Homo sapiens: one gene and its partners. The protein of the gene in region 3 interacts with the protein of the main gene of each other region in a biochemical or structural test. Each region holds a gene or a part of one and is shown on either strand. Other genes may lie near its edges. The genes, in order: RPS6KA5, GABPA and ATF1.

Region 1 (7,120 bases), on a different chromosome or scaffold from region 3:
TTGAGTAAAGTCTACTGTTAAAGTATTCCAGATTTTTAAATTCCAGTGTCCTTGCTGTGGAATCTAGTGTTGGCTTTCTGATGTCAGAATAATCAAACCCTGCTCATATACACATCCAGAAAACTTTTTCTAATGATGATACATTTAGCAAAATCGCAAGTCTTTAAAAATTCTAGTTAAATAGACTTACTTGAGACAAGTGTACATTGTGAAATCTAAAATAAAAATTTGTGACTATATAATACATAATCTTCATTATGTAGGCTATTTCTAAAAACTTAGTTTCTGTGCTGATTTCATGTTAAGTTTTTCAAACGTTAGCAGATTATAATGGCTACAGTAAGTTTTGTTCTAAATCTGGTAGCCATTTATTATTAAATGATTAATGATTAAACATTAATCATTTAATAATTACTTAGGAATTATAAATTACAATGTCAAATCTTCATACATCAGGCTCCTTGCACTATAATTACTTAAAATTAGTTTGCATCAATAGTCTATATAAACAGATATCTTAGTTTAGAGGAAAAAATATTCTATTTTCTAGGTACTTTAATAGTTTGGTCTTGTGAAAATTACATAGGTGTGTGTTTATGTATGTGTATACACACATGTATTGGGGGCTTACAATACCAAATTAATAAGACTGCCCCTCACTCCTTAAATCGACTATCTGCCCTGCCAGTAATCCCCCACCTGTACTGGTATATACAGAGTTTTCTCTGGTACAAATGATTAATCAAGAAAAAGGGTGTGAAATATTTGTGTTCGTTTCTTTTTAAATGAATAATGGGATACACATAAACTAGTAACACCACATTGATTTCCTAAAGACCTAATACAGCTTTAAGAGGGAATAACATTCCAGAGCTCCAGGATTATTTTAATTTAGCTTTCAAGATGGTTACGATTTTGATTTAATATAGAGACTTCATAGTGTTAAATTTTAGGGTTTTTTTTTTTTTTTTTGTATTTTTAGTAGAGATGGGGTTTCACCATGTTGGTCAGGCTGGTCTCGAACTCCTGCCCTGATGATCTGCCTGCCTCGGCCTCCCAAAGTGCTGGGATTACAGGCGTGAGCCACTGTGCCCAACCTAAATTTTAGGTATTTAAAACATCCATTGATGCTTTGTTTTGTTTTTGGGTTTTTTTTTTATTGTTGTTACTTAAGGGATGCATCTTATTTATTTGGTTGACTTTTATCTAGACATCATAAATGTGATGCTTACTTTTTTATTAGCCACTTCATTGTTGATGTCTTAATGGGAGATCTTAGTTTGATGAATCTACTCTTTGAAATTTTAGTTTGATTAGTCATTTGTTTCTGCTAGGTTTTGGCTTTTGTTTTGTTTTTTGAGTGATAACCTAAGAAGTTTCTACAGTGGAAAATATCATTATGACATCTTCATCCCTTATAAAGTTGTTTCATTTAGAGGAATTTTTCAAAGCCTATGTTGAGAAATGGGCAAATTAAGTAAAGCATCATAACAATTTTTTTTATAGTGAACTCATTTTATTTATAGAACGGCAAACACATTCACTCTTTTTGCTAACATCCGGGGCTTTTTTCATTGTGACTGCTTTGCACACTTAAAAATGTTTCTCCCAGGCCGGGCACGGTGGTTCATGCCTGTAATCCCAGCACTTTGGGAGGCCGAGGCGGGCGGATCACAAGGTCAGGAGATTGAGACCATCCTGGCTAACATGGTGAAACCCTGTCTCTACTAAAAATACAACAAAAATTAGCCGGGCGTGGTGGCAGGCGCCTGTAGTCCCAGCTACTGGGGAGGCTGAGACAGGAGAATGGCATGAACCCGGGAGGCGGAGCTTGTAGTGAGCCGAGATCGCGCCACTGCACTCCAGCCTGGGCGACAGAGCAAGACTCTGTCTCAAAAAAAAAAAAAAAAAAAAAGTTTCTCCCAGCAAAGGCTAACTGGAATTTATTTTTGTTTAAAGACAAATACTTTTAATGTGGATAAAATAAAAGTTGGAAGTATGCCTTTCATGTGGCAAACTGGAAATTAGTGGTTAGTACTCCATTGCAGCATTAAATACCAATTCTTTACAATAGGGTGCACATATCAGATGCTGTTTTTCCCTTAACCTTTGCACTTTTCATTGAAAATGTTTTCAAATCAAATCTTGTTTTATTGGGTTTCACATGATTGGACTAATACTTACATATATGCTTCTTTTTAAGGTATTTAGACATTGACAATTAGTTATTTCCTTATGAGCCATAGCTTTGAAAAACCATTTTAGAAGAAATTTCCATTTTTTAAACAAAAGTGTTGGGAGGCCGAGGCGGGCAGATCACGAGGTCGAGACCATCCTGGCTAACATGGTGAAACCCCGTCTCTAATAAAAATACAAAAAATTAGCCAGGCATGGTGGTGGGCACCTGTAGTCCCAGGTACTTGGGAGGCTGAGGCAGGAGAATGGCGTGAACCCGGGAAGCAGAACTTGCAGTGAGCCAAGATCGCACCACACCACTGCACTCCAGCCTGGGCGACAGAGCGAGACTCCGTCTTAAAAAAAAAAAAAAAAAAAAAAAAGTGATTTTTTAAAGAAAAGATACCGATAATTTGTCTTTGCTGTAGATGAATGCCACGTTTTTATATACTAGGACTATTACTGAATAATACTGTTTATTTCTTTAGATCAACGAATATATTAAATTCTGTCTTTTTTGTTCAAATAAACGCTGTGAGATGATTGGGAAGGCTGTGTGTTGAAGTTAGATGCAAAGTTGGACCTTGTACAGTGAGCCTCTTGTGAGAACTGAGCCATGAAAGATAAAGCCTGTCATTCATGTCTGCCTTGGCCTGTGCCCAGCTTTATTAGTAAAAACCATTCAGTTTTTACTAATGATATCTACCAGTATCTAAAGAGAAATACCTTCATCCTCTAGAAGAAAACAAGGTTACCCAAAGAGCTCACTTAATTCCTTCCTTTTTCCCTGAACCCTTGGTTTTAAGTGAAGAGTAAAATGTACTAGATATGACACTCTCTCTGAGTATTACTGAGGATTTTGTGGAAAAGGCAGTTTGGTACTTTATTTCCAGCTTAGCTGCAGACTTGGTGACCCTGAGCAAATCACTCAGCCTCCCTTTGCCTCCATTTCTTCATCTGTAAAATGGGGTTAACCTGTGCCTCCCTGTCTCACCAGCATACTGAGGGATCGATTAAAGAGGATTAAAAAAATCCATAAGGTACACTGATTCCAAAGATGGGTAGAATGATATTTAATAATGAAGACTTTCTGTTATATAGCAATTTAATTTTAAAAGTATCTTTACCAGGCCAGGTGCGGTGGCTCACTCCTGTAATCCCAGCACTTTGGGAGGCTGAGGAGGGTGGATCACGAGGTCAGGAGATCAAGACCATCCTGGCTAACACGGTGAAACCCCGTCTCTACTAAAAGTACAAAAAAATTAGCCAGGCATGGTGATGAGCGCCTGTAGTCCCAGCTACTCACGAGGCTGAGGCAGGAGAATGGCATGAACCCGGGAGGCGGAGCTTGCAGTGAGCCGAGATCACGCCACTGCACTCCAGCCTGGGGGGCAGAGTGAGACTCTGTCTCAAAAAAAAAATAAAATAAAAGTATCTTTACCCACTTCTCTGTAGTGAATATTGACTAGCATTTTGAAGTAGGAACTAACAAAGTATAAAATTAAGTAGATTTTTTATATTTATGGGTATTGTTCTAGTACAAATTTATGGTGTACACTGTCGGTCTGAGTGTGGGTTTAAAATATATCATTGTGCTTGGCTAATTTGTAGAATGTCTTATTTGAATTGACTTCATTTATTTCAGAGGAATGCATAGATGATCAGATCAAACTGTCGTCATAGCAGTGTTTTCAGCACATACGAGAATCTTAGAGTTTAGGAGCCTTAGAGCTCACCCAGTGCAATTTCCTGCCGGAAGCAGATTCCTTCCTGGTGACCTCACCAACAGGTGCTTGTGCAGCCTTTTCCTGAAAACTTTTTGGGAAAGTGGGGGCTGCTACCTCACTACTTTGATGTGTACCTTTTGTTCAAGAACTTTCTAAAACTTGGAGCTAATCATGGGTTATTTCAGAAGATGTAAGCATTTTAAGTTTTTTATTGAATTCCATCCTTATTTAAAAGGCCTGGTTATGTAATATTTTCTGTTTTTTTTTTTTTTTTTTGTATGGTTTCCCACATTGATTAGGTTGTTTTCTTCATTTTCTTAATAGATTAAAAATACTTTCTTCTCTTTCTATTTGTGTCTTCTTCCATTTAGTATTTATGGGAGGGAGCAAGAAGGGAAAGGATGTCTATTTTTAAAATTGACTACAATCATGACTGTTCTTCTTGTCATTCTGTAGCAGCTGGATTTATTACCATCTCTTATTTAAAGGTCCTTCAGAACACGTTGAAGCAGTTCATTTCAGGTCAATGGCTGGTAAGCAATGTCAGGACCTCTGGGGAAGGAGAAGCTGACGGGATCCCAGAGGAAAGAATTGAGGTTGTTTGCTCCCTTGTAGAAAGCCCACAGATCCCTTCCCAGACTAGAAAAAAAGTGCCAGAGTGTCCTGAAACTTTCCTTCTAAGGCACATACTTCAAAGAGACTGGGGATTCCTTTGTTTTAAATATAGGTGGGGTCTCACAGTGTTGCCCAGGCTGGGCTCAAGCGATCCTGCCACCTGGGCCTCCCAAAGTGATGGGATTACAGGCATGAGCCACCATGCACGGCCATGGAGATTCTAATGTGGTGCCAGCTGCCAGGTAAGAAAGCTGTGAGACAATGTGTTGATTTTCCTTTACTACGTCAGGTTTGAGGACATCATCTAGCATCAACGGGTAACGTCACCCTTTGTTCCATCTTTGGGAAATAATAGTAGTAGCTTGTTACTGTTAGCTGACCCCTACATTAGCATCAATAAAGTAAATCCCTTTAACTTTCCTTTTGGCCTTTCCTTTCTCTCTCTCTGCCTCCCCACCAGCCCCGACTCTCTCCTGTGTGCGTACACATCCACACACACCTCCATGGTATTCCTTCTTTCTCCCACCTAAGGGAAGCTGTGCCCGATCTTGCTGCAGTCCAGGTCACCGTACTGAGATGAGTCAGCCACAGACTCTAAACACTAGCAGCGATTAGCCGTATGTAGCCACCAAGTGCACTGTTTTAGACAGGTTTACACAGCTCTTTGCTGTCCACTCATATCAGCTGTGTAGTAGCCCAAGGCAGCCTGTCAGGCAGAAGAATTACCAACCAAAGTGGATCTATTCATAAGATAAAAGATCCGGAGTCCGTGCCCTCTTAAAAAACTTTTGTCTTCAGACATATGGGTGCGTGTTCATCTCTGGCCAAAACTTTGTTTCCAGTTTCAAAGGGCTGGTTGCGAAGGTGGCCTTGTAACCTTTCTGTTGCCGGCTCTGTTAGTTGCCTGATAAGCAGTAGCTAATTCATCCTCCTCAGAATTTGAGAGTGGCATCTATTAGATTCAGACCACCAAGGTGCCTGCGCGGGCTCTCCTGGTTACGACTGAGTCCCCTTTTCTCATCTGTGGGGTGAACGCTTCTATTTGCAGAAATTTGCTTGCATCTTTTTCCTTTTATTTATTATTACTTTTTAGAGATGCGGCCTTGCTCTGTTGCCCAGGCTGGAGTGCGGTGGACTCTTTTCTTTTGTTGATCTTTGCCATCCTCTGCCTGGCTTAATGAGGTTCTTTCCCTGCGTATTTATGTCCCAGGAGCTCACCTTCCCCCTAGGTTTTTAAGAAGGAAGCAGAAAATGTTACAAAGTATAAGGGATTCTATGAAGTCCATAGATAGGATTTGCTTTGGGAGTAGATGATTTCTTCTTATTTTGGTGTAAACATCAATTTGGATGGCAATTAGAATGTCTTTAGCCTCTTTAAAAAGCCCTTCTGGGGCAAACCTTTGCAAGTCACTCAGCTGGCATGTAATGAGATTTTTATTTGCATGGCTTTTTTTTTCTAAGTCTCTCTAGAAGAACATAAGGACATTCTGAACATGCAAGGAATACAGTTATTCTCACATCAAGGATCAATTTTATTTTGTATCTTCATTTTATGTCATTTTCCTTTATTTTATTCACATTAATCTAGCATTAATTCCCCCCAGAGGGAATGATATTTTTGGTTGCTGCCACCTGTGTTATTAAGTGACAGCTTTTCTTTATCTGCTTTTCTGAATTTCATATTTATATACTTTATTGTAGTTTTTTAAAATCTATTCTAGCTGGGCTAGAATCTTCCAAGTATTAATTCATAATGAACTTCCCTCTTCTGGAATTGTTTAGGAGGGCTAATGTTCCATGTTCCCTTCGTTGCTATAGATATGAAGTTATTTCGATGTTCTTTGAGTGCTTTATTATAGCGATAACTGGTACTGCCTTTGATTAAAGGTGAGCTATATGGAGTTAAGCATTTTTATACTAGTAACTATTTATTGAGAATTTTCAGAATTCTATAGCTACTTGTCTTTAACAGTTATAAGAGGCATGTATTTTTTTTTCCTTCATGGTCTGGAAGTTAGTTTTCTCTTTGTTTGGGTAGATCGGAATGAGTTGTTGAGCTGTGTTGAAAACACACATGAATCAAAAAAGCAGATGTATTGTAGAAATGTGATGTTTTCATGTTTCGGGAATTTGACCGGAAAGCTTTATGTATGGGTTTTATTTTTAACAAAGCAGTAAGGGCTTACTTTTTACCAACTTGTGTGTGTGTAAAGATGTATTTGTTCAAGCTTTAAGAATAAACCTGTCAATGTACAAATGCCTGATATCTGACTTGGACTTGTGGTTTGTTTGTTTGTTTGTTTGTTTGCTTTTCGGGGCGTGGGGGTAGGTATGTTGGATCTTGGAAATAAGTGAGAGTGTTAAAGAAGCACAACAATCTGTATCAGTGAATTTACATCTTAGAAGACTCACATTAACTTATGCTTGAATGAAAACCGTGTGTGGATAACTGAATGCAGCGTTTTCTGAACTGCCCTGAAGGACGGCTTAAAAGGAGAAGGAAGCCACTCGCCCATTTAGTGTTCTGAAAGGTCTTTTCCCCTAGGACCCATTCATGCCTCCCTTCATCAAGCCCCCATCCTTCGAGGGTTCCAGAAAATGAG
Region 2 (7,120 bases), on a different chromosome or scaffold from region 3:
GAAGTTCGAGACCAGCCTGGCCAACGTGGTGAAACCCCATCTCCACTAAAAATACAAAAAATAGGCGGACAAGGTGGTGCGTGTCTGTAGTCCTACCTACTTGGGAGGTTGAGGCGAGAGGATAGCCTGAACCTGAAAGGCGGAGGTTGCAGTGAGCTGAGACTGCGCCACTACACTCCAGCATGGTGACAGAGCAAGAGTCTCAATTGGAAAAAAAAGAGAGAGAGAAGTTTGGAAACTACTTGGCTGTCCAAGAAAACAAGGCACAAATGTAAATTATTTTTGCTTGAATTTTAATCCATCTTATATTTCAGTCACTGTTAAGACACCGAAAGCAACCCATTCCTTGACAGTTTTGCATATCAGAAATGCTAGCCAGACCCACATATTTTTCAGAACACATGACTACAACATACTCTGACTTTGCTTTTGTATCAGTTATGGATGAAAATGTTAATGATAGCATTTTGTTTTATTATATACCCAATAAGGAGAGAGCTCTGGTGGAGGGATTTTTCCACCGTAATTCAATGCTTGCAGTTTTCATTCAAGGTGCTTTCTCTGGCCAGGTGCAGTGGCTCACTCCTGTAACCCCAGCACTTTGGGAGTCTGGGGTGGGCAGATCACTTGAGATGAGGAGTTGAAAGTGCTTTCTCTGCTGGTGAATAAGAAATGAGCTCTGGAGAGAGGCATTTCTTAATTGTTTATAATTTTATTCTTGTGAGGATTCTCCCAGATGTTTTTTTTAAGTATCTATGATACTAAAAGACTTAGTACATTCATTGTATTTGCAGCATTTATTTCCAATTTCCATTCTTACTAGATAAGTAAGTTGAATGTCCTGGTTGAAGCTTTGTCCTTGGTTTCACAGATTTCCTTCCCTGCAGAGGTTTTGAAATGAATAAGGTAGATTCTGAATTGTGAAACATGTGAGTCATGTTTATTGAAACACTTTCTTATAAGAAATCTCAAGAACACAACAAAGATAGTGCATAGATGGTAGTTTCATTTTTCCCAAATCCACGTTTTTTCCAGTCTTTCCCAGGTCAGCTGTTTGTTGTGGCTGTCTCTTTCTGGTTCTCTTATTGCTTCTCAAACTTTAAAGCTTATTCATAGGCTTTTCCCAGAACAGAAGTCAAAGGTGTCTTGTGTATCTTTCCATTTCCATGCAGTTGAATGAGTCTTCCTCAGAAAAGCTCTGCTCTGGAACCATTGCTTTGTCTTTTAAAGCAACAAAGTCCCACAGCCTAGATGAGTGTCTCACGGAATTTCTTGGTGATCCAGCCATGGTTCTTCACTCTGCCGGGGTAGGGAAATCCCATCTGCTTTGGAAATCTAGTGCTCAGTTCAGAATTGGGAGATGGGCAGGATGATGTGTAAGGGTATTTCTAACAGACTTTCTAGAATTCACAAGTCTTACTTCTCAGAATAGGGTTTTTTGAGCTCAGTGTAGTTAGTACTCTGGTCCCTTCTGTAGAGAGAAGTCTGCAGCCTATCTGCGAAAGGCACTGATTCTGGGACAGAACTGTTAATAACCCAGCCTCTATTATCCATCCTCAGTGATCTCTCAAGAAGCAGCAGTACTGAAGAGGTAGGGCTCCTTCTTCAGATATTTGTATGAGATTATTCACCTGAGCCACCACCTGCCTGCAGTCCCCCCTATGTTGAAACTACATCCAAGTCCCACTATACATGGGAGGATAATTAGGAAATGTCCCAGTACTACCAGTTCCATGATGTCCTTCTCGGTGTGAATCTCTGTCTTCTGTCACCAAAGGCAAATGAAGTTCTCAGTTTGCTAAGGGTTTTATTTAGGAAAAATAATTGTTTTATTCCTGTAGTGTCTAATGTTTCTTCATAAAATGGCTCCATATCCCCCAGGGCTTTGCCTCTCAAGACTGCTTACTTTGTGTGTAGCAAGGATTTGGAGGTTTCAGGGAGGAATGTGATATTCAGAGTGCCTGTACTTTGAAGAGATTGGTCTTGGACCAGTCTTTCAAAAACTTTTTTTTTTTCCCCCTGTGGTCTGCCTTCTGTCTTGAGAGTTTCCAGGAAACAGACCAAACTCCAATCTGAGAATTAGGACTTAGAAGGTGATTTTACAAGTTGATTATGCCTGTGCTGTGTGATGGTGATGCTTTCGTTTGCCTCTTTTGAGGCTAGGTTCCTTTAGTCTCAAATAGTTCCTCTTTGAGGAACTTTTATAAAATTCTGAGGAAAATTTACTACAAACATAAAGTGCGTATTTTTTTTATCAAGAGAGACCACAGTTCTGGAGGAGAATGCTCAGAACTAGGAGTCTGGATAAAACAGTGAGGTTGTCAGTTGACTGAAAAAGTAACTGTTTTGTGCACTGTGCTTTTTAAAAACATGTTTCTTTAATCCTCACAATAACCTCATGAGGCAGTAAGTATAGGTGTCTAATTTAAACTTGAAGAAGTTAATGTTGAAAGAGGTCGGTAATTTTACCAAAGTCATATAGTCAGTAAGAGCTAAGAACTAAATCCAGATCTGTCTGAAGCCAGTCCCATATAATTCTTAAGTCCTCAGTCTTCAGACCCTCAAAGCTCCCATCTGATAGGATTCTGACCTCTTTTTACTTCCCCAACCTTTTCCAGCTCTGCGTGTCTGGAACTGGATCCTGGCAAGGCACCCTTAGCGGAGTCTTCTTGGGAGCCCAGGCCTCAGTACCCAGAATGATTGCTGGAGGGTATAGTTTCAATTTCAAGAGAGAGGCATGCAATTTGTGATGGGCACAAAGTAGGCTGAAGTAATAGAGACTGGGATGTGCAATTCTTGTGAGAGGTAAAGAATAACATCTAAGTAGGGAATAACAACAGATAAGTAATGAATGGTTCTGTAAAGCCTTATCTCAGGACCTTTATAGTATTTTTATTTTGGGAACTATATTTTTAAATGTGAAATTATTTAGTTTAATTGAGACATTTAGGACTGCTACAATTGTGTTGAAAATTTGCTGTCTTTAAGTAGAAGCATTATAAAGCTTAAGCAGCTTTAGTCAAAAGTGGATGTTATAACAAATAATGGGAAGGAGGCCTTTTTGGTGGAGATACGTACCTAAATAATTTAATTTTGGTGTATATTTTATCTTTGATCTGATCTTGAAGATTTCCATATTTTTACATGGCTTTATGTGGATTTCAATACAAATGTTTACATTTAGAAAACCATAGTTCTCTGCAGAACTTTACTGAACACTAAAAGACATTGGAGCTTTTCCCTGTGTTATTTCTCTTAAGGTATCTTTTCCTTTTAAAGTGACTATCAAATATTTTTAAGGTTTTTATGCCAGTAAGTTTCAGTTCAGTGTTTTGGTTTTAATTGTGGAGTTCTTTTTAAAAGAACCATGTTTATTAAGTTGAGTTTTATTGGATTGGGGTTTTTATATTTTTGGTTTTAAATAAAAACAAAAAATTTTTGTTTTTTTCAGATGTATTGGCAAGTCAAGAACAACAGATGAATGAAATAGTTACAATTGATCAACGTGAGTATTTGTACCTATATTTGCCCTTTTATTAATAAGAAATGTTTATTTGATACCGCAAGGTAATAAAAAGGAAAATTATTTAAAAAAATTTTTTTTCTACACACAAAATATCTTTTGTTCTGTGGAATGAAAGCTCGACACAAGTACTTTATAAGATCCACTCATGTGTTTTTAAATGATACGATTAACATAACAGCTTGCTTTGTATCTCAGTTCACCAAAATTTGTTAGGACATCATTTGTTTCATCTTTACTGACTGTTAATTACCAAGTTGTAAGAACAATTCTAACCACATTCATACCTGACAGAACTTTCATGCCTGATAATAACTGGATATTAGGTAGCATCCAATTGAAATATCAGTATAGGTTGGATACAGCAGAGAAAATATTCAAGTGTCCAAAACAAACTTGAGGAGTTACAATGGGTTTGAAATGAAGAAAAAAGGCCAAGTTAAAATAGGAAAACAAATAGTTTTCATTTGGTGGGAGTTGCAATCAAAGTATACAGTTGTATACATTCTAATGGATCATCTGTCCCATGTGGCATTTTCCAAGGCTTGAAGAGTCTACCAGGGCAAACCCTTCGCCGCCTCCACTACTTTTGCTTGGCTTTTCCCCTTTCTTTTCTCTCGCTTTGCCTTCAGCTTTATTCTTTACCTTTGATTCATCTATATTGGGTACTGTACTTGCTAGAAGTACAGTCTAGAAGAGTCTTTTTGTTTCTCTTAATATCCATCTCCATTTTCATGTCATCTTTTCCATCTTTTACCTCATGTTGCATTTTCTCTTGGCATGTTTGGGTTTGGGTACCACCACAGTTGCTGTCTCTTAAACATCTTTCATTAAAACATTACTGTCTAGTTTGAGAATACTTTTAAGCCTGCTGAGCTCTTTTGGGGCATTTTTCCCCCCTTTTCAGCATGCATCTTTCTTTTCCGCTTATGCCATAAGCTTTTAGCTATGTTTTACCTGAGGTACGAACACACACGTCACAAGATCATCCCAACCGGCTAAAATTTTTAATGAGGAATTTGAGATACACAAAGAAAGTATAACTAACACCTGTGTACATCATTAGAAATAAAATTTTTTACACCAAGTATACCTGTTGTAGGTTTCATTTTCCTCTCTCCTACCAGAGAACTATCTTGAATTTTATGTTTATTACTGTCTGCATATTTTATATTTTTACCAACTATGTAATCGTAAACACTGTATAGCATTGTTTTCCACATGTTTAAACATTGTTTGTAAAATAATACATTGTACATATTATTTTATAACTTTTTTATCATTTGAGAATTACTCATGTTGATACTTGCAGCTGTTTCATTCATTTTCACTGCTGTATCTTTTAAATGCTGTGAAAACATCATTGAATGAATATTTGTAAGAACATGTGTGAGATGTTCGTGTCATAGGGTTTCTATCCTTTCAGCCTTACTCCAGATATTGCCAGATTCTCAAAGTGGTGGTGTGAATTCTCATTTGTCCACATTTAGTACAATATATTTGACAAACCGTTTTTATGAACAAATGTTTTAAGAACAAACATGTTTAAATACTCTTTGTCTAATGTGTATGCATCACTAAGTTATTTCCAAACAAGAATACTAGCTCTTACTAAGATGCACAAACTATAATGCAAGCGTTATACTTTACCATCTGAACTTTTTTGTTATTTTGTTTGAAATTGTGGATTGAGGCTTTCTGTAGTGAAGTACTTTCTTGGGGGTAATTCATAGGGCATTAGTTAAAGTGATAATGTCTTTCAGTAATTTTTTTTTTTTCCTGCTTGTATTGGAAGAAAAAAAATTTCTCCTTGTCTGTCTTTGCAGCTGTGCAAATTATTCCAGCATCAGTGCAATCTGCTACACCTACTACCATTAAAGTTATAAATAGTAGTGCGAAAGCAGCCAAAGTACAAAGAGCGCCGAGGATTTCAGGAGAAGATAGAAGCTCACCTGGGAACAGAACAGGTATTTTTGTATTTTCTTGTATTTATAAAATATATCTATCTAATTAGGTATATTTTGTTGTATTTTACTGTATGAAAAATGTGAATTTGGACTATCCCTCTGGCAGTTTTTAGACAGCATTTCTAGAAAAACAAAAATTGTTTTTGCCATGGCTGAGATTTAAACCACGGGACCAGTTTGTTGTCTTTGCCTTGGGCTAATCTATAACACTATAGCTAATGCTTTGTTCCTCTTACCAATTTAGGAAACAATGGCCAAATCCAACTATGGCAGTTTTTGCTAGAACTTCTTACTGATAAGGACGCTCGAGACTGCATTTCTTGGGTTGGTGATGAAGGTGAATTTAAGCTAAATCAGCCTGAACTGGTTGCACAGAAATGGGGACAGCGTAAAAATAAGCCTACGATGAACTATGAGAAACTCAGTCGTGCATTAAGGTAAGCCTTTATTACTTTTTTTTCTGTTATCAAAAATAGAAACTTTCTAAAAAATAGTTTCTTATTCTAGATGTAATAAGCATTGTTATGTAATGATATTAAAAACTTGTTTATGTTTTTTTCTTTACATATTAAAAAACCTTTTTAAAAAGATCTTAATAATTTCGAGGTACAGTTTTTTTTTTACAAAATTACTCTAAGATTGTTTGTTTTTATCTGATTTGAAAGCTATAATACTCTGTCCCAAAAAAAAATGTTTAATTTTTGAGGTTTTTATTATTTGCATAGATGAATTGAGTGTTAGTTTTTAATGAGTAAGCAGAAACTGTCCTCTGTTTTTACAATTACAAGCAGAATATTGACCCATTTTCTACACAATCTGCCTAAATCTGGATATCCAATCTTTACATTGATACAAACTCTCCGTAAGTAGTATAAGGTTTTTTGACAGAAATTACTATCAGAAATTATGCCTACTACAGTGATGGAAATTCAACAGGTACATTTAAGTATCTGAGAAGAAGGATATATAAGAATATCACGGAATTATGTCTGATTTTTTGGGAGATTGAATATAGTAAAATAGTTCTGCAATTCACGAGTTTTTCTAAATAGCATGCTTTTACTGCTTCTTCATGTTTCACTTGGCCATTTTCACACTGAAAGATTATAATTTAGCTCACACACACACACTCTCCCTTCCCCTTTCCATCCCTTCATCTCAGTATCCCAATATAATTATATGGAAATTTTGGTTCAGCGAGTATTCATTGTTACAGTATTACGGCCATGTAACTATTATTACATAGTTGGCTGTGATTATTTTTCTTTTCCTGAATGACCCTTTTTTTCTCAGAGTTCATGAGTAACTAAAATGTTTAGTTTTCAAAATGCTTATCCTTTACCATTCAGTCTCAAACACATTGCCAACTGTCTAAAGATTCTTCGTTTATAATCATAATTAAAGCTGCCATTTTTGAGAGTTGATACAGATTGTATACATACAAGTCCCCTCAAAATTACAGGTAAATTGTTAGAGTTAATAATTAAGATGTCAGTTCCCCCCCAGATTGATCTAAGTTTCAGTGCAGCAACTTAGTTTAATTTGAAAAATCAAACTAAGTTTTTCATAGAACTTGAGAAGATAATTGTAAAATTTACATGGGACTATAAAGTACCATGGTAGTCAGGAC
Region 3 (5,682 bases):
ATGTGGGAGCTAAAATATTTGAACACATGGAAGTAGAGAGTGGAAAAATAGGGCTGGGCGTGGTGGCTTATGCCTGTAATCCCAGCACTTTGGGAGGCCGAGGCGGGAGGATCACTTGAGCCTAGGAGTTCAATGCAAGCCTGGGCAACATACCCATTGCTACAAAAGATAAAAAATTAGCCAGGCATGGTGGCGTGTGCCTAAAATCCCAGCTACTCGGGAGGCTGAGGTGGGAGGATTGCTTGAGCCCAGGGGGTTGAGGCAGCATGATCGCACCACTGCACTTCAGCCTGGGCAACAGAGCAAGACCCTATCTCAAGAAAAAAGAGAGAATGGAAAAATAGGTAACAGAGACTGGGAACGGTGAGGGGCAAGGAGGAGGATGAAGAGAGTTAAAGGGTACAAACCCATACACAGTAAGATAAAAGGAATAAATTCAGTGTTTCATAGCAGAGTAGGATGACCACCCTTAACAAAAACCTATTAATACTCAGGTGATGGACACCCTGAATCCCCTGACTTGATCGCTACACATTATATACATGTAACAGATTTTCTCATGTGCTCCATAAATATGCACAGAAACATTTTAATGGAAAAAACCATACAGGCCAGGCGTGGTGGCTCACACGTGTAATCCCAGCATTTTCGGAGGCCAAGGCAGGAGGATCACTTGAGCCCAGGAGTTTGAGACCAGCCTGGGCAATATAGGGAGACCCCATCTCTAAAAAAAATTTAAAACATTAGCTAGATGTGGTAGAGGCAGGAGAATCACTTGAACCTGGAGGCAGAGGTTGCAGTGAGCCATGATCACGCCATTGTACTTCAGCCTGGGCAACAGAGCAAGACTCTTGTCTCAAAAATAAAACAAACAAAAAAAAACACACAAGTAGTTAATAATCATATAAAAGACTACTCAGCCTTATTAGTAATCAAAGAAATACACATTAATGCTACACATTTAGATACCCTTTATACCCACCCAATTGGCAAAAATTTTAAAGTCTAACCAAGAGTTGGCAAGGATTTGGAACAATGGTCAGGAATTCATAGATACTACTATAGGAGTGTAAATTGATGCAGCCATTTTGGAAATTAGGCCTTATCTTGTACAGTTGACGTGGGTATACTCTGTGACCCAGCTGTTTTAGTCTGTGTGACTGAGAGGAACTTGGAGGAAGTATGTATAAGAATTTTCATAGCAGCAAAAAATCAGGAAACAACCTCAAGATTCATTGATAACAGAATAGGTACATATTGAGCCTAAACATAAAAATGGGGGGAAAAAAGAATAGGTACATAAATTGTGACTGTATTTATAGAATGGAATGTTTATTTGTAATGACTGAATGAATAATCATTTCAACATGAATAAATCTTAGAAAAATTGAATGAAAAAACAAGTTGCAACAGAATACACAAAGTATGATATTTTATAATTTTAGAAAATAAATGATAGCAGTTTTAGGGTCATATACGTATATACTACAACTATAAAAATAAGAAATGAGATGTCACGTAGCAAAAATTATAAAGTGGTAATACTGTCTGTCATTGGGCATATAAGGAAAAGGGTACCTCACATACATTACTGAGGGAAGTACGGAGTTTTATGGTATCTACTTGCCCCAACATTTCTACTTGTATGTGACAAAAGATACCATAAAGAAACTTAAAAATAAGTCTGTTAACTGGGAAAAATATTTGCAACTTTTATATAAAGAGAAAGAATTACGAGATGTATAGGTTATATAAAGATTTATTTCTGTAAATAAGAGACCTAACAGAAGGAAACCGGTCTGTGAAAGATGGCCTTGTAAACATGAAATTATTCCAAACTTTGTGCATAATGAGGGAAATGTTAAAGCAGTGAGGTTCGCTTTTTGTCAGCCGCTAGACTGACAACCATTTTAAAATGTTCATAACAGGCACTCTCATGTACTGCCCCTGGGAATGTAAATGGTACAAATACTCTGGAGGACATTCTGGCATTTTTTCCCTTTTTTCTTTCTGGTTTGACTCTGGGATTTTTTTCCTTCCTTTTTTCCCCCCTTATTTCTCTGTACTTCAATGAATATAAATTGGCACTATCTCTTGACTTTAAGTGAATATAGCTTGTGATCCTTCAAGAAATACATGTGTAGAAATACACGTAAAGAATGGAGGCTGAGTGGGTGGCTCATGCCCATAATCCCGACACCGTGACCAGGAGTGAGACCAGCCTAGGCAACATACTGAGACCTCATCTCTACAAAAATAAAATTAGCTGGTGTGGTGGTGTACACCTGTAGTCCCAGCTACTTGAGAGGCTGAAGTGGGGATATCTTGAGTCCAGGAGGTCAAGGTTGCAATGAGCTGTGATTGTGCCACTGCACTCAGCCTGGTTGACAGAGTGAGACCCTGTCTCAAAACAAAAGAAGAAAAAAGAAAAAGAATGTTTACTGGAAACCACTTAAAACAAACAAACAAACAGAGCTTAAAGGTAAAAATAAAGTCTTTTTGTGAGGGGAAAGATTTTGTACAGTCCTTTTAAAGATGTGTACTAAAAAGCAAGTTGCAAATAGTATCTACATATATAGCATAAAAATCTTAAAATAGTACTGTTTCTTTCTTTCTTTCTTTTTCTGAGACAGAGTCTTGCTCTGTTGCCCAGGGTGGAGTGCAGTGGCGCGATCTTGGCTCACTGCAACCTCCACCTCCCAGCTTCAAGTGATCCTCCTGGGTCAGACTCCCAAGTAGCTGGGATTACAGGCATGTGCCACCACAGCTAATTTTTGTATTTTTAGTAGAGATGAGGTTTTGCCATGTTGGCCAGGCTGGTCTCGAACTCCTGACCTCAGGTGATCTGCCCGCCTTGGCCTCTTAAAGTGCTGGGATTACAGGCATGAGCCACCATGCCTGGCCAATACTTCCGATTTCTATATGTATATAAACTTACATATGACTTCACAGAAATGTTTTAAGAGGACATGCACAGAACTGAGTATTTGCTCAAGCATTGTTTGTAATTTGAACTTAAATAAAAGAAGTCATGTGTCAGAAGTTAACCAGAGGACCCATAATTTCACTCTTTGGTATTTATTCAAGAGAAATGAAACCTTTCTACAAAAAGACTGGCACAAAAACATGCCTATGCAGCTAACCCTAGAAACATCGCAAGAGACTGGATACACAAATGGTGGTTATATTCATACAGTGAACTATGTCCAGCAGTGTGAAGGAACAAACCCCCATGCAGCAACATGGATGAACCTCAGATGGGCTGAGTGAAGGGACACCAGAGTACATAGTGTATGACACTCTTACATGAGGTTCTAGAATAGGAAAAAAACTAATCTCTGGTGATAAAAATCAAAACGATAGTTGCTTGGAAGGGGGCTGACCAGGAAGGGGCATGAGGGAACTTTCTGGGACAGTGGGAATGTTCTGTTGTCTTGACAGAGGTGTGGGTTATACAGGTATACACAATTGCCAAAACTGACTGAATTCTACACTTAAGATCTATGTATTCTCTGTGTGTAGATGATACTTTAAAGAGAAAAAAAGGTGACCACGGAAAATTACTGAAGAACATTTACCATTTAAAGAATGTGAAGTTTTTTCTAACATTGTTTTTTTAATGCTCATATTTAGAGAAGCTGCTCGAGAATGTCGCAGAAAGAAGAAAGAATATGTGAAATGCCTGGAAAACCGAGTTGCAGTCCTGGAAAATCAAAATAAAACTCTAATAGAAGAGTTAAAAACTTTGAAGGATCTTTATTCCAATAAAAGTGTTTGATTCCTAAGAAAGAAAATATTTTTGTGGACATGCATAAAAATTAAATGGATTTCCTAGTGGAGTTTTATAAATTAAAAGGTCAAAACTGAAGCTTTTTATTTAGGCTTTTCCAAATCAAGGATAAATATCTTACGCACGATATCTAGTGACAGAGGAGAAAGTGGAAAATGACCTCAAGGAAGCTACGGGCACAACTGGAAGCTTTGTAGAAATTAAACATATTCAAGGAGCAAGAAATGAACTTTCAGCAGTCTAAATTTTCTAAATAACCAATAGTTGCCAATCTAAAATGGCAGAGAAGATGAAATTTGATAAACTGAATTTTTTTTAAAAATCCATTTACCCTACAGGTTTGCATTTGTTTGCTGAAATTTACCTTTTTTTAGTTATATATATGTGTGTGTGTGTGTGTAATTTCTGCCAATAAATTCTAAATTACAAAGGTAAGAGAAAACCTAGTACATTACTAAATATATAAAGTATATGTTCTGATTATGTATACTTGTTCTAGTGTCAAGTCTTTTTAAGTGGGTTTTTAAAAGTTTGTTATTGGACTTGAATGGATTTTTGAGACTAGGTTAATTATTTTTGAGGTCTTATCCTAAAAGGCATCTAAGGTACATGAATGGAGTATGGTGATTTTATAACATTTTTTATCAGAATGGAAAAAGAACTGTTTAAAAGTTTGATACTTTTAAATAGTTGGTTTTTTTGCTTACTCTGGTAATGATTTTCTACAAATACATAATAAATTGTTTTTTTGAGTCTATATTCTGTATGCAGTTGAATATCCATTACTTATTCTGCTGTGCTTTAATAGAATGGAATGTTTACAGGCCCTTAAAATATTATTTTTAAAAAACCTTCTGAAGATACATACCAAAGTTTTTCCAAGAAGATTTTATAATCAATTTAATAATGTAAGGTTTATCAGATTCTATAATAGTATAGTTATTAAGGCAATTTTATGTTAGAGACTATTTTGTAATGTAGTGAGTGGTACCTTTATAAGAAAAGTGACTGCCAATATATTTTTATAGCTGATCTTTATAAATTCTAATGTTGAGTTTTTAATGATTATTTTAAATGTTTATATAGTTTAGTAAAATTTGCATCTCAAAGTATCATTTTTATATTATGGGACGTTTTCAGATTGGCTAATATTTGCATTGTAAATTTTGTATGCAGTTTATCTAAAATTCAAAAATACTGTCAGTACACCAGCGTTTAACATCTATATTCCAATTTGTATACAGTTTAAAATTGTACTGCAAAACTATTGTGTGCTCTTACACAGTATGCATCATATTGTTGTCTGTGAAATTAAAGGACATTTGATAGTCTACTGAATGTAAAATATAATGCTTGGTATATGAATGATAAGCTTGCTCCTGGCCATGCTGTTAATTATCCTAATGCTACGTAGAAATCTTCACTTAACTGATACATTTGTGTTTGACCCTCCTGATGAAATTTCTCATTAGAAGGGTCTTTTAAAATGGGACTCTGTTGACTTGGCAGCACTTTATGAAAAGAAAAAAAAGTTTGATCGCCAGGGGGATTACTTATATCACTTACTACCTTGTGTAAAGCCAGAATCTCAAACTGGTGGCCCGTTAGGCCTAAGAATATGAGGAGGTATGAGGTCACTGGGTTATGTCAAAAGACTTTTTCAACAGATGATAATATATTATTGGGTAGACACCGTGCTTGTTTACAACAGAGGTAGCCTAGCTCTTAGTGCCTTAACAGCTGGACATCTGCAAATATTTGTAAACTCTGCTGCCTTCAGACTTCTGGTGTAGGGCCTTGCTAACTAGACCCAGTTACTTACTCTAGCTGTATGAAACAGGTCAGGGCAAACCATTAATGGTTCCATAAATGCATAACAAATTATTTTCCTG

What was found.
Region 1: of the proteins of ATF1 (region 3) and RPS6KA5, one has a biochemical effect on the other in vitro, tested with the Homo sapiens proteins (one study listed by BioGRID).
Region 2: the proteins of ATF1 (region 3) and GABPA form a complex in vitro, tested with the Homo sapiens proteins (one study listed by BioGRID).

The regions. Positions count from the first base shown.
Region 1 is NC_000014.9:90,847,522-90,854,641, reverse strand, and holds the end of RPS6KA5 (ribosomal protein S6 kinase alpha-5), read left to right. Parts: 3' UTR 1-6,781; downstream 6,782-7,120. UniProt on the Homo sapiens protein: Serine/threonine-protein kinase that is required for the mitogen or stress-induced phosphorylation of the transcription factors CREB1 and ATF1 and for the regulation of the transcription factors RELA, STAT3 and ETV1/ER81, and that contributes to gene activation by histone phosphorylation and functions in the regulation of inflammatory genes.
Region 2 is NC_000021.9:25,758,861-25,765,980, forward strand, and holds part of GABPA (GA-binding protein alpha chain), read left to right. Parts: intron 1-3,451; coding exon 3,452-3,505; intron 3,506-3,778; exon of another isoform or gene 3,779-4,521; intron 4,522-5,349; coding exon 5,350-5,490; intron 5,491-5,734; coding exon 5,735-5,927; intron 5,928-7,120.
Region 3 is NC_000012.12:50,816,002-50,821,683, forward strand, and holds the end of ATF1 (cyclic AMP-dependent transcription factor ATF-1), read left to right. Parts: intron 1-3,633; coding exon 3,634-3,778; 3' UTR 3,779-5,161; downstream 5,162-5,682.